Linked DNA regions of Homo sapiens: region 2 is linked to region 1. The links come from fine-mapping of genetic effects on gene expression. Tissue or cell type: whole blood. Region 1 holds a variant in brackets; the other region holds the start of a gene. All regions are shown on one strand. Distances are from middle to middle.

Evidence for each region. PIP is the estimated chance that this variant, and not a neighbour inherited with it, causes the effect.
Region 2: HAT1 starts here. The variant in region 1 is fine-mapped to the expression of HAT1 in whole blood (INTERVAL, PIP above 0.99).

What each region holds. Positions count from the first base shown.
Region 1 is chr2:171,972,087-171,977,308 of GRCh38, forward strand. It overlaps HAT1 (histone acetyltransferase 1), which reads left to right. Exons shown (of 11, transcript NM_003642.4): 9 at 4,071-4,222. It overlaps LOC124905590 (a long non-coding RNA gene), which reads right to left. Exons shown (of 3, transcript XR_007087296.1): 3 at 4,606-5,222. It also overlaps the pseudogene LOC100420002. Among named protein-coding and RNA genes, the nearest start is that of METAP1D, 25 kb to the right of the region's middle. The variant T/C (reference allele first, on the strand shown) is at 2,356.
Region 2 is chr2:171,920,389-171,925,610 of GRCh38, forward strand. HAT1 (histone acetyltransferase 1) reads left to right here and starts at 2,073. Exons shown (of 11, transcript NM_003642.4): 1 at 2,073-2,119; 2 at 5,149-5,222. The coding sequence starts at 2,113. It overlaps LOC105373740 (a long non-coding RNA gene), which reads right to left and starts at 2,001. Exons shown (of 3, transcript XR_923579.2): 1 at 1,651-2,001; 2 at 692-843. RefSeq lists enhancers at 1,509-2,157, 2,298-2,347.

The DNA.
Region 1 (5,222 bases):
CCTACTTTCTAAGGCACTCCTCCCAGGCCCCCGACCAGAATCCTGAACTCTTAAAGATAGTTTTTAAGAAAACATTTAAACGGTTACATATGAAATGCTATCTGCATCTTTCCAGGGTTTTTCTTTTGTTTTTTTTTTTTGTTTGTTTGTTTTTGTTGTTTTTTTTTTTGTTTTTTGGTGAGGTAGGGGTAGTGTTTGAGACAGGGTGTTGCTCTGTCACCCAGGCTGGAGTGCAGTGGAGTGATAGCTTATTGCGCCTTGAACTCCTGGGGTTAAGCAAAACTCCTGCCTCAGACTCCCAAGTAGCTGGAACTACAGGCACATGCCACCATACTTGGCTAATTTTTAAAGTATTTTCTGTAGAGATGGGGTCTCACTATGTTGCCCAGGCTGGTCTTGAACTCCAGGGCTCCAGCTGTCCTCCTGCCTTGGCCTCCCAAAGCAAGGGATCACAGGTGTGAGCAGCTGCACCTGGCCTGGCACACACAAAGTTATAGCAGGTGCCCTGCCCCAACCCCCACAGGCAGCAAGCTGTGGGGTCTCCTAGCTGTAAAGGGCTGCTGCAGTGGCGACAGCACAGAGTGGGCAAGGCACAGCAGAGGTTTTGGCAGCATGGCCCAGTTCCTGGTATCTGCTCCTATATAGTCCATGCTTACTTCTTCAGGGAGAGTGACTGCATTCACTTTCCTGACAAACATGAATCATCTTTTGCTTTCCTCTCTTTCTTCCTCTTGGCTTTCTCCTGCTATTTCCAGATAATCACCTGCTCTGTCTCCCCAGCTAAATGCAATTTCATGTAATGCTCTTTTGCTTTCTCTTCTCAATGTCTTCTTTTCTTGAAATCTCCTTTGGCCTGCCCAGATTCAGTTGTGTGACCTTTCTGGTTATCTATGGCATCCAATTGGGGTTCTTCATGTCAATGAGCTGTTCTGTGCCTTTGTACTTTTGTTGGCAGTCAGTCATCTTCATTCTCAGGCAATCTCTTGCCTGATGCTAGAGATTTCTTCTTTTTTGGGGTCACTTGCAGCCTCCATTCTCCACTCTCTTCTTGTGTCTTCTCTGGCCTTCTGCTTTTCAACTTGGAGCTGTGCGTTGATCTGCTTGGGGAATATTGTACTGCCTTGCTTAGCCTTTGTGGCCTCCCTTTCTCCTTCCTTTAGGCACAGAGGCTCTGGCAAAGCAGCACCTCAACCACATATGAGTCTTGAAATCAGAAGTGAAAGTCCTCCAATTTTGTTCTTTTTCAAAATTATTTTGTTTATAATGTCCCTTGTATTTCCATAAAAATTTTAGCATAAGCTCACCAATTTCTGCAAAAAAAAAAAAAAAAAGTCTCTTGGGTCTTGATAGGGATTGAGGGATTACATTGAATCTGTCATTAATTTGAAGAAAATTCCCATCTTAACAATTCAGAATCCTCTAATCCAGGAGTCTCAAAATCCCGGGCTACGGACTGGTACTGGTCCAGAGCCTATTAGGACTGGGTCACACAGCAGGAGGTAAATGATGGGTGAACAAGCATTACTGCCTGAGCTCTACCTCCTGTCGGATCAGTGGTGGCATTAGATTCTCATAGGAGCACAAACCCTATTGTGAACTGCACATGTGAAGGATGTAGGTCGAATCTAACTAACGCCTGATGACTGATCTGAGGTAGAACAGTTTCATCTGGAAACCATCCCTTGTCTGTTCCCCTCATCCCCAGGGAAATATTGCCTCCCACAAAATCCCTGGTGCTAGATATTTTTGGCACTTCTGGTACCAAAAAGGTTGGGGATCACTGCTCTAATCCATTAATATGAAATGTCTTGGGCCAGGCTTGGTGGCTTGCACCTGTAATCCCAGCACATTGGGAGGCCACAGCAGGTGGATCGCTTGAGCCCAGGAGTTCGAGAGCAGCCTAGGCAATGTGATGAAATCCCATCTCTACAAAAATACAAAATTTAGCCAGGCATGGTGGCAAGCACCCGTGGGCCCAGCTACTCAGGAGGCTGAGGTGGGAGGATCACTGGAGCCCAGGAGGTTGAGGCTGCCGTGAGCCAAGATCGTACACTGCACTGCAGCCTGGGTGAGTGAGACCCTGTCTCAAAAAAAAAAAAAAAAAAAGAAAAAAAGAAAAAGAAAAAAAAAAAAAGAAATATCTCCATTTAGTTAGATCTTTTAAAACTTTTCTCAACAATGTTGTTTTCAGTATACAAGTTTTGCACTACTTTTGTTAACTTCATTTGTAAATATTTTTGATGCTGTTGGAAATGGGATTATTTTCTTAATTTCTTAATTTTGTTTTTGGATCATTGATTGTTTTAGTATGTAGAAATACAGTTGGGTTTTATATATTGATCTTCTATCCTGCAC[T/C]CTTACTGAACTTGTTTATTAGTTGCAGTAGTTTTTTGGTTAGAATTTTCCACATACAGGATCACATTGTCTGTAAATAAAGACATTTTTACCTCTTCCTTTGCAGTCAGATGCATTTTCTTTCTTTTTCTTACCCGATTGCTTAGCTGAGAACTCCAATATAATGGTGACTGGCAATGGTGAAAGCAGACATCTATGCCTTGCTCCCAGTTTTAGAGGGAAAGCATTTGGTCTTTCACCATTGTGGATGATGTTAGCTATAGCTTTCATATGTGTTAATTATGAAATTGAGGCAGTTCCCTTCTATTTCTAGATAGTTGATTATTGAGCGTTTTTATCATGAATTGATGTTGGATTTTGTCAAACGCTTTGTTCTGCATGTATTGAATTTTTCTCATTTATTTTGTTAACATGGTATATTACATTAATTGATTTTTTTTGGATGTTAAACCAACTTTGCATTTCTGATATAAATCCCATTTAGTTCTGGTATGTAATTCATTTTATATATTGCCAGATTTGGTTTGCTAATATTTGTTGAGGACATTTGTATCTACATTCATGAGGGATATTGATTTGTAGTTTTTGTCTTAGATCCTTAGTGTCAGCATAACTCTGGCCTCATAGAATGAGTTGGAAAGTGTTTCCTCTATTTTCTTTCTTTTTTTTTTTTTTTTAATGGAGATGGAGTCTCACTCTGTTGCCCAGGCAGGAGTGCAGTGGTACCACCTTGGCTCACTGCAACCTCTGCCTCCCAGGTTCAAGCGATTCTTCTGCCTCAGCCTCCCAAGTAGCTGGGACTACAGGCCTGCGCCACCACTCATGGCTAATTTTTATATTTTTAGTAGAGATGGAGTTTCACCATGTTGGCCAGGCTGGTCTCAAACTCCTGACCTCAGGTGATCCGCCCGCCTCAGCCTTCCAAAGTGCTGGGATTACAGGTGTGAGCCACTGTGCCTGGCCTGTTTCCTCTATTTTCTAGAATAGTTTGTGAAGGATCATCGTTATGTCTTCTTCAGGTTGTTTCATGGAATTTACCAGTAAAGCCATCTGGTTGTAGACTTGTCTTTGTGGGAAGATTTTTAGTTGGTAATTAAATGTCTCTGTTATAGTCAGTTCACATAGTCATTTACTTTTTGAGTCATTTTGGTAATTTCTTTCTAAAAGCTGTCTGTTTCATCTAAATTGTCTCATTTGTTGGCATAAAGTTCATGGCATATTCCCTTTTAATTCTTGTGATTTTTGTAAAGTTGGTAGGAATATCCCTTCTTTCATGCCTGATTTTGGTAAATGTTGTTTTCTCTCTTTTTTTTCAGTCATTCTAACTAAAAGTTTGTCAATTCATCGATCATTTCAAAGAACCAACTTTGTGTTTATGTGAACTTGTCTATTTTTGTTTTCTTTTTCATTGATTTCTACTCTATTATTATTATTGCTTCTTATTACTTTGGGTTTAATTTGCCCTTCCTTATCTAGTTAAGAGTGACTCTTAGGTTATATTGATTTGATGTCTTTTTTCTTTTCTTCTTTTAGACAGAGTCTCGCTCTGTCACCCAGGCTGGAGTGCAGTGGTAGAACCTCCACCTCCCAGGCTCAAGCGATTCTCAGGCCTCAGCCTCCTGAGCAGCCTAGCATATATGTTGAGATTGCAAAAGATGAAGAAATTATATTGAGTATCAGGGAAATGTTAATATTATTCTGCTTTATTTATTTAGCGGAAGATCCATCCAAAAGCTATGTGAAATTACGAGACTTTGTGCTTGTGAAGCTTTGTCAAGATTTGCCCTGTTTTTCCCGGGAAAAATTAATGCAAGGATTCAATGAAGATATGGTGATAGAGGCACAACAGAAGTTCAAAATAAATAAGGTATTTTTATTCTGTAGGAGGAAAACAGATTTAAATTACAAACAAATTTTTGAAGTGTATACCTTAACTAAAATATTATAAAGACATTAAGAATACATGTGTGGGAACTAGCAATGGTTAACAGTACAGCTTTGAAGCCAAATTGCCTGAGTTCAAATCTAGCTCCAACACTTGCTCTGTGATTTATGGCAATTTAATTTACCTCGTGCCTCAGTTTCCTCATTAATAAAATGGGAAGATAATAGGTGTTATTGCTATATTAAGCATAACAAGCAGAGGAAAGATGGATAATAGGATCTTATTTTTACTCTTTAAAGTAGTTGTACCCCTGGAGACATTATTGGTGGGAAGAATGGTTGAAGTAAAACACGTATTTCATTTTATATACTTTTATATATTTATTTAAATTTTAAAGTGGTAAATGTCTTAAGATAGGTACAGAAAAAATAAATATGGAAGTTCAGAGAAGAAAGTTTATTACATTTATGTAAGCAAGGAAATCAGTGGTTATTTCATAGAAAGGATGGCATTTGATATAAACCTTGAAGAATGAGTAGGATTTGGATTATGAAAGTATGTGAGATGGGCTGGGAGTGGTGGCTCACGCCTGTAATCCCAGCACTTTGGGAGGCCGAGGCGGACAGATCATGAGGTCAGGACATTGACACCATCCTGGCTAACATGGTGAAACCCCACCTCTACTAAAAATACAAAAAAGCTGGTCATGGTGGCATGCGCCTGTAGTCCCAGCTACTCGGTAGGCTGAGGCAGGAGAATTGCTTGAACCTGGGGAGGCGGAGGTTGCAGTGAGCTGAGATGGTGCCACTGCACTCCAGCCTGGGCGACCGAGCGAGACTCCATCTCAAAAAAAAAAGAAATTTGTGTAGGCCGGGCGAGGTGGCTCACGCCTGTAATCCCAGCACTTTGGGTGGATCACGAGGTCAGGAGTTCGAGACCAGCCTGTCCAATATGGTGAAACCATGTCTCTACTACAAATACG
Region 2 (5,222 bases), 52 kb before region 1:
CATTATGACTGTAATTTCTTTTTTTTTTTTTGAGACGGGGTCTCGCTCTTGCCCAGGCTGGAGTGCAGTGGCGGGATCTCGGCTCACTGCAAGCTCCGCCTTCCAGGTTCACGCCATTCTCCTGCCTCAGCCTCCTGAGTAGCTGGGACTGCAGGCACCCGCTACCACGCCCGGCTACTTTTTTTGTATTTTTAGTAGAGACAGGGTTTCACCATGTTAGTCAGGATGGTCTGGATCTCCTGATCTCGTGATCCGCCCGCCTCGGCATCACAAAGTGCTGGGATTACAGGCGTGAGCCACCACGCCCGGCCTATGACTGTAATTTCTTGTGTATCATTAGGTTTCAAGAAAAAGGATCTTGAAACCTTTTCTTGGGATCACGACTGTAATCCCAGCACTTTTGGAGGCCGAGATGGGCAGATCATCTGAGGTTGGGAGTTCGAGATCAGCCTAACCAACATGGAGAAACCCCGTCTCTACAAAAATACAAAATTGCTGGGTGTGGTGGCGCATGCCTGTAATCCCAGCGACTCAGGAGGCTGAGGCAGAAGAATCGCTTGAACCCGGGAGGCGGAGGCTGTGGTGAGCTGAGATTGTGCCATTGCACTCCAGCCTGGGCAACAAGAGTGAAACTCCGTCTAAAAAAAAAAAAAAAAAAAAGAAAGAAAAAGGATCTGGGCATTCTCAGTACCTTTTCTGATCTTTATCTTCAGGAAAGCCATCTCTATATAGTTGAGCAAATAAATACTGGGCTGAGTATCTGATGAACTGCACTCTGCATAGGTTGCATACTGAGAATGAACTTGGGCAGTTTATCTTTTCTGGGCTTTGGTTTCCTCATCTCTAAAATGAGAGGGCGTGTTAGTTCTAGACCATCATCCCAAGGGTCCATTTTAGCTTTAGCGTGCATCACTGTAAAACCTGTTAACAAATATTTGTTGAGATAAGGAATTCTGGTGTATAGCCAACATTGTGGGAATATTTGTGGATACCTAAATAGTGGTTTATCCTCTGGGGAAAGCAGTTCCTACAGCTACTAAATACTAACAAGGCCTATGGCTAAAATCAGGTAGCACCTTGTGATGTAATTCAAACCACTAGGACATGTGGCATGCAAGACTACATCAGGCTACTTGAGGTATTTATTAGGTAACAATTTTTTTTTTTTTTTGAGACGGAGTCTCACTCTGTTGCCCAGGCTGGAGTGTAGTGGCGCAATCTCGGCTCACTGCAACTTTCGCCTCCAGGGTTCAAGCGATTCTCCTGCCTCAGCCTCCCGAGTAGCTGGGATTACAGGCGCCTGCCACCATGCCTGGCTAATTTTTGTATTTTTAGTAGAGACGGGGTTTCACTATGTTGGCTACACTGGTCTCGAACTCCTGAGCTCAGGCAATCTACCCGCCTCGGCCTCCCAAAGTGCTGGGATTATAGGCGTGAGCCACCGCGCCCGGCCTAGGTAACGATTTTTGCGCGCTAAACGGTTCTTAGTAACCTGCAGAGTGAAAGCAGAGTACCTAAATATCATACTGTATACGTTAAAAACAGGGGAGAAAGGAAAAAAGGTGTTAAAGTTTACAGCAAAATGAGAAACAAATGAGGAAAACAAGTGAAAGCTTCTCCCGCAACTGAAACTCAACCTCTACATTTTACCTAGGTAAAATGGTAAAATTGCCCACAGGGCTCAGGTGTTTGGATGCACTGTCCAGGCCAAGAGGAAAGATTTTCAGCCAGTCTCCAAAACATCTCAGGGACGGGTATGGAAAACAGGCGTAAAGTGTCTGTATTGATCAAATCAACCCCAGAGAAACTTTCCTAGGGCCAGAGAGCATCTCAACCGCGAAAGTCCGTTTGCGGCCTCCTTCTCCACTTCAGGCCTGCAAAGCGGCTGACGGCATTCGCAGTGGCTAGGCAACGGCCCGCGCAGACTTCTCGGCGTTAGCCCCGCCTCTTGAGGCGCTTCCGCCGCCGGGCTCCTGGACACGCCTCCTTTAATTGGCTAACGTCACGCTGGGAGTGGGCGGGGAAAATATGTCAGACTGTGCGGTCACTTCCGGCCCGGGAGCGCGCGGGTTGATTCGTCCTTCCTCAGCCGCGGGTGATCGTAGCTCGGAAATGGCGGGTAAGTTACCGGGAAAAGTTTACCAAGGGGAGGAGGCGGCCAGATCGGGGATAGAACGCCGAGACGGTGGTGACAATGCCCGCCTAGAACTTTCGGGCTGTAGCCTGGGTTCCAGAAGGCCTGCTTGGGACCGGAAGCGCGGAACTCTCAGCCCAGCAGCTCCTTGTTGGCGGCGGTCCGCGCCCCCGCCCCCAACTGCTTGGGGTTCTGCGCCTTCTGCCAGCAATCCGGCCCCTACCGAGGGCCGAAGACGCCAGGGAAAAGCGTCATGATTTGGGCTCGTAAAATGCCACATGCCTTGGGGCCTGTTTCTCTTCCCATTCCTTTTGTCCACTGCTGCTTGCTTCAGCTCTTGTACATCTGGTCCTGTTCCCGCCAGCTGATTTTAATGCTCAGATCCTCCTCCTCTTCCAGGTCTCCGTCTACCTTCCACTACAGTCAACTTCTGAGCTAGCGCATTGCTGCCTTGCCCTGCTCTGGCGCTCCCACTTGGATCTCGACTGACTTCGTAGTCGTCTCGTTAATCTGTCACACTTTAGTATTCCGAGGATCGTATTTAGATGCCCTTTGAGAAAGACTTTGTTCCTGAACTGCTCCCTTCTCTTTTAGGGTTGGACTACTATAATACAATTCTCTTGTGTACATTCTAGAGACCCTTCAAGTTACAACATTTAATAATGTATAATTGCTATTACTTTGTACGTGTATTAAGGCTGTTTTGGTGTGATTATTTTTTTCGATTACTTATCTTTTGAAGTTATGGACAGTTTCTTTTTCCTGAGACAGGGTCTCTCTGTCGCCCAGGCTGGAGTGCAGCGATCATAGTTCCGGGCAGCTTCCAACTCCTCGTAGGCTCAAGCGATCCTCTTGCCTCAGCCTCCCGAGTAGCTAGGACTACAGGCATGCGCCACAACATTCGGCTAAAAAAAAACAATTTTTTTTAACCTTTTAGAGACAGAGTCTGGCTGTATTGCCTCAGGCCGGTCTGGAACTCTTGGCCTCAAGCCATCCTCTCGCCTCAGCTTCCCAAAGTGTTGGAATGACAGGATTGAGCCACTTCGCTGGCCTTTGTTGCTTTTATCATCTCTTTACAGGGCATTCCTCATAGTCTCTCTACATTAACCATTCCATTTTTATGAATATGTGGGATAGACAAGCTGTTGTGTGAGCTCTACAGATGTTTAAAGAAGGACTTTTCTACCAGATGGAGATTGTAGGATCTTGAAGTACCACAGAAGAGGGAGGACGTACTCTAAGAATTACATCTAAATTCGAATTTTGGGCCCATCATTTAGTAGTTGGATGCCCTTCAACTAAACCTCTTTCTAAGCCTGAACTTTTGAATGTAAAATGGGGTTGATGTAATACCTACTTATAGAATTGTGCAGATTGAGCTAATATATGATTTCACAGGTTAAATTTTGTTGCTTACATTCCTCGAAGTAAATTCTGTAATCTCGGTTCTGTAGATTAGGGTCAGAGGGGTTAAGTAATGTGCTCTAGTTCCCTGAGCTTACTAGCTCAGTAAGTGTGTGAAATAGTCAGAATCCAGGAATTCTCACTCCAGACTATTAATCTGTACTGCTTCAAGTCTTTCCCATTTTCTGTGTGTGTGTTTTAACCCCTTTTTGAAGTTTATAGCACATCATTGTACCCCTTTTTATTTTTTGCTTATGGCTTTTTTCTGTCTGAATTTTTACTGATTTTTTTTTTTTTTGGAGACTGAGTCTCGCTCTGTCACCAGGCTGGAGTGCAGTGGCGCGATCTCGGCAACCTTTGCCTTCTGGATTCAAGCAATTCTGCCTCAGCCTCCGGAGTAGCTAGGACTACAGTCACGCGCCACCACGTCCAGCTAATTTTTGTATTTTTAGTGGAGATGGGGTTTCACCATGTTGGCCAGGATGATATCCGTCTCGACCTCGCGATCCCCCTGCCTCGGCCTCCCAAAGTGCTGAAATTACAGGCGTGAGCCACCGCGCCCAGCCCATTTTTACTAATCATATGCCCATTTTGTCAGGAGATTTGTTATCTTGAAAGTTTCTCTTGATAGTGATATCTTCCAATGTTATTTATTATGTATATTATTGAGTAGCCACTATGTAGTAAAACTATTGTGCCAGTAGCTCACAGTTTATGACTTTAGGCATACATGATTTTTAAATATTTAATACAGTGGAAAGATGTTTTCTTTGTGCCCCTGTTCCTCTTCCTTCTTTCTTTACCCATGGTAACTATGGTTACCAGATATTTGTGTATTCTTCTTGAGACATTCCATGCATTATCATTTCCTTATCTGAAGCACTCTGGTAGACTTTTTCCAATACTTAAAATGAAATTCTGTCATAATTATCAGAGGACATTCTCATTTTGCTTTTTACATCTTATAATGAAAAAGACGACTTAGGTATAAATCCTAGCAGGTAATTTGTATTAGTACATGTTCAGAAATGTTAGTAATCTATCATGTTAATTTTCAGGTTTATTCATTTATATTAAGTATTCCTAGTTTATAAGCCTGTATCTCAAAAGTGATTTCTTTTTCTGTTTTGTAATGAGGCATTCTTTTTTTTTTTTTTTTTTTTTGAGATGGAGTCTTGCTCTGTCGCCCAGGCTAGAGGGCAGTGGCATGATCTCGGCTCACTGCACCCTCTGCCTCCTGGGTTCAAGAGATTCTCCTGCCTCAGCCTCCCAAGTAGCTGGGATTACAGGCGCCCGTCACCGTGCCCGGCTAATTTTTGTATTTTTAGTAGAGACGGGTTTCACCATCTTGGCGAGGCTGACCTCGAACTCCTGACCTTGTGATCCACCCACCTCAGCCTCCCAGAGTGCTGGGATTACAGGCGTGAGCCACCGTGCCCAGCTGGCATTCTTAATACATTTATTTAAGAGTATGTGGAGAATGACTTGTGCTTTTATGATCTATCAGCATGTTTTAAATCATACCCCTATTCCACTTATAATAACCCTATTGCAGGTTTGACAATTTAAGTCACTTCCAAACTAAACCTTTTAAAAACCTTTTCTCTTAGGATTTGGTGCTATGGAGAAATTTTTGGTAGAATATAAGAGTGCAGTGGAGAAGAAACTGGCAGAGTACAAATGT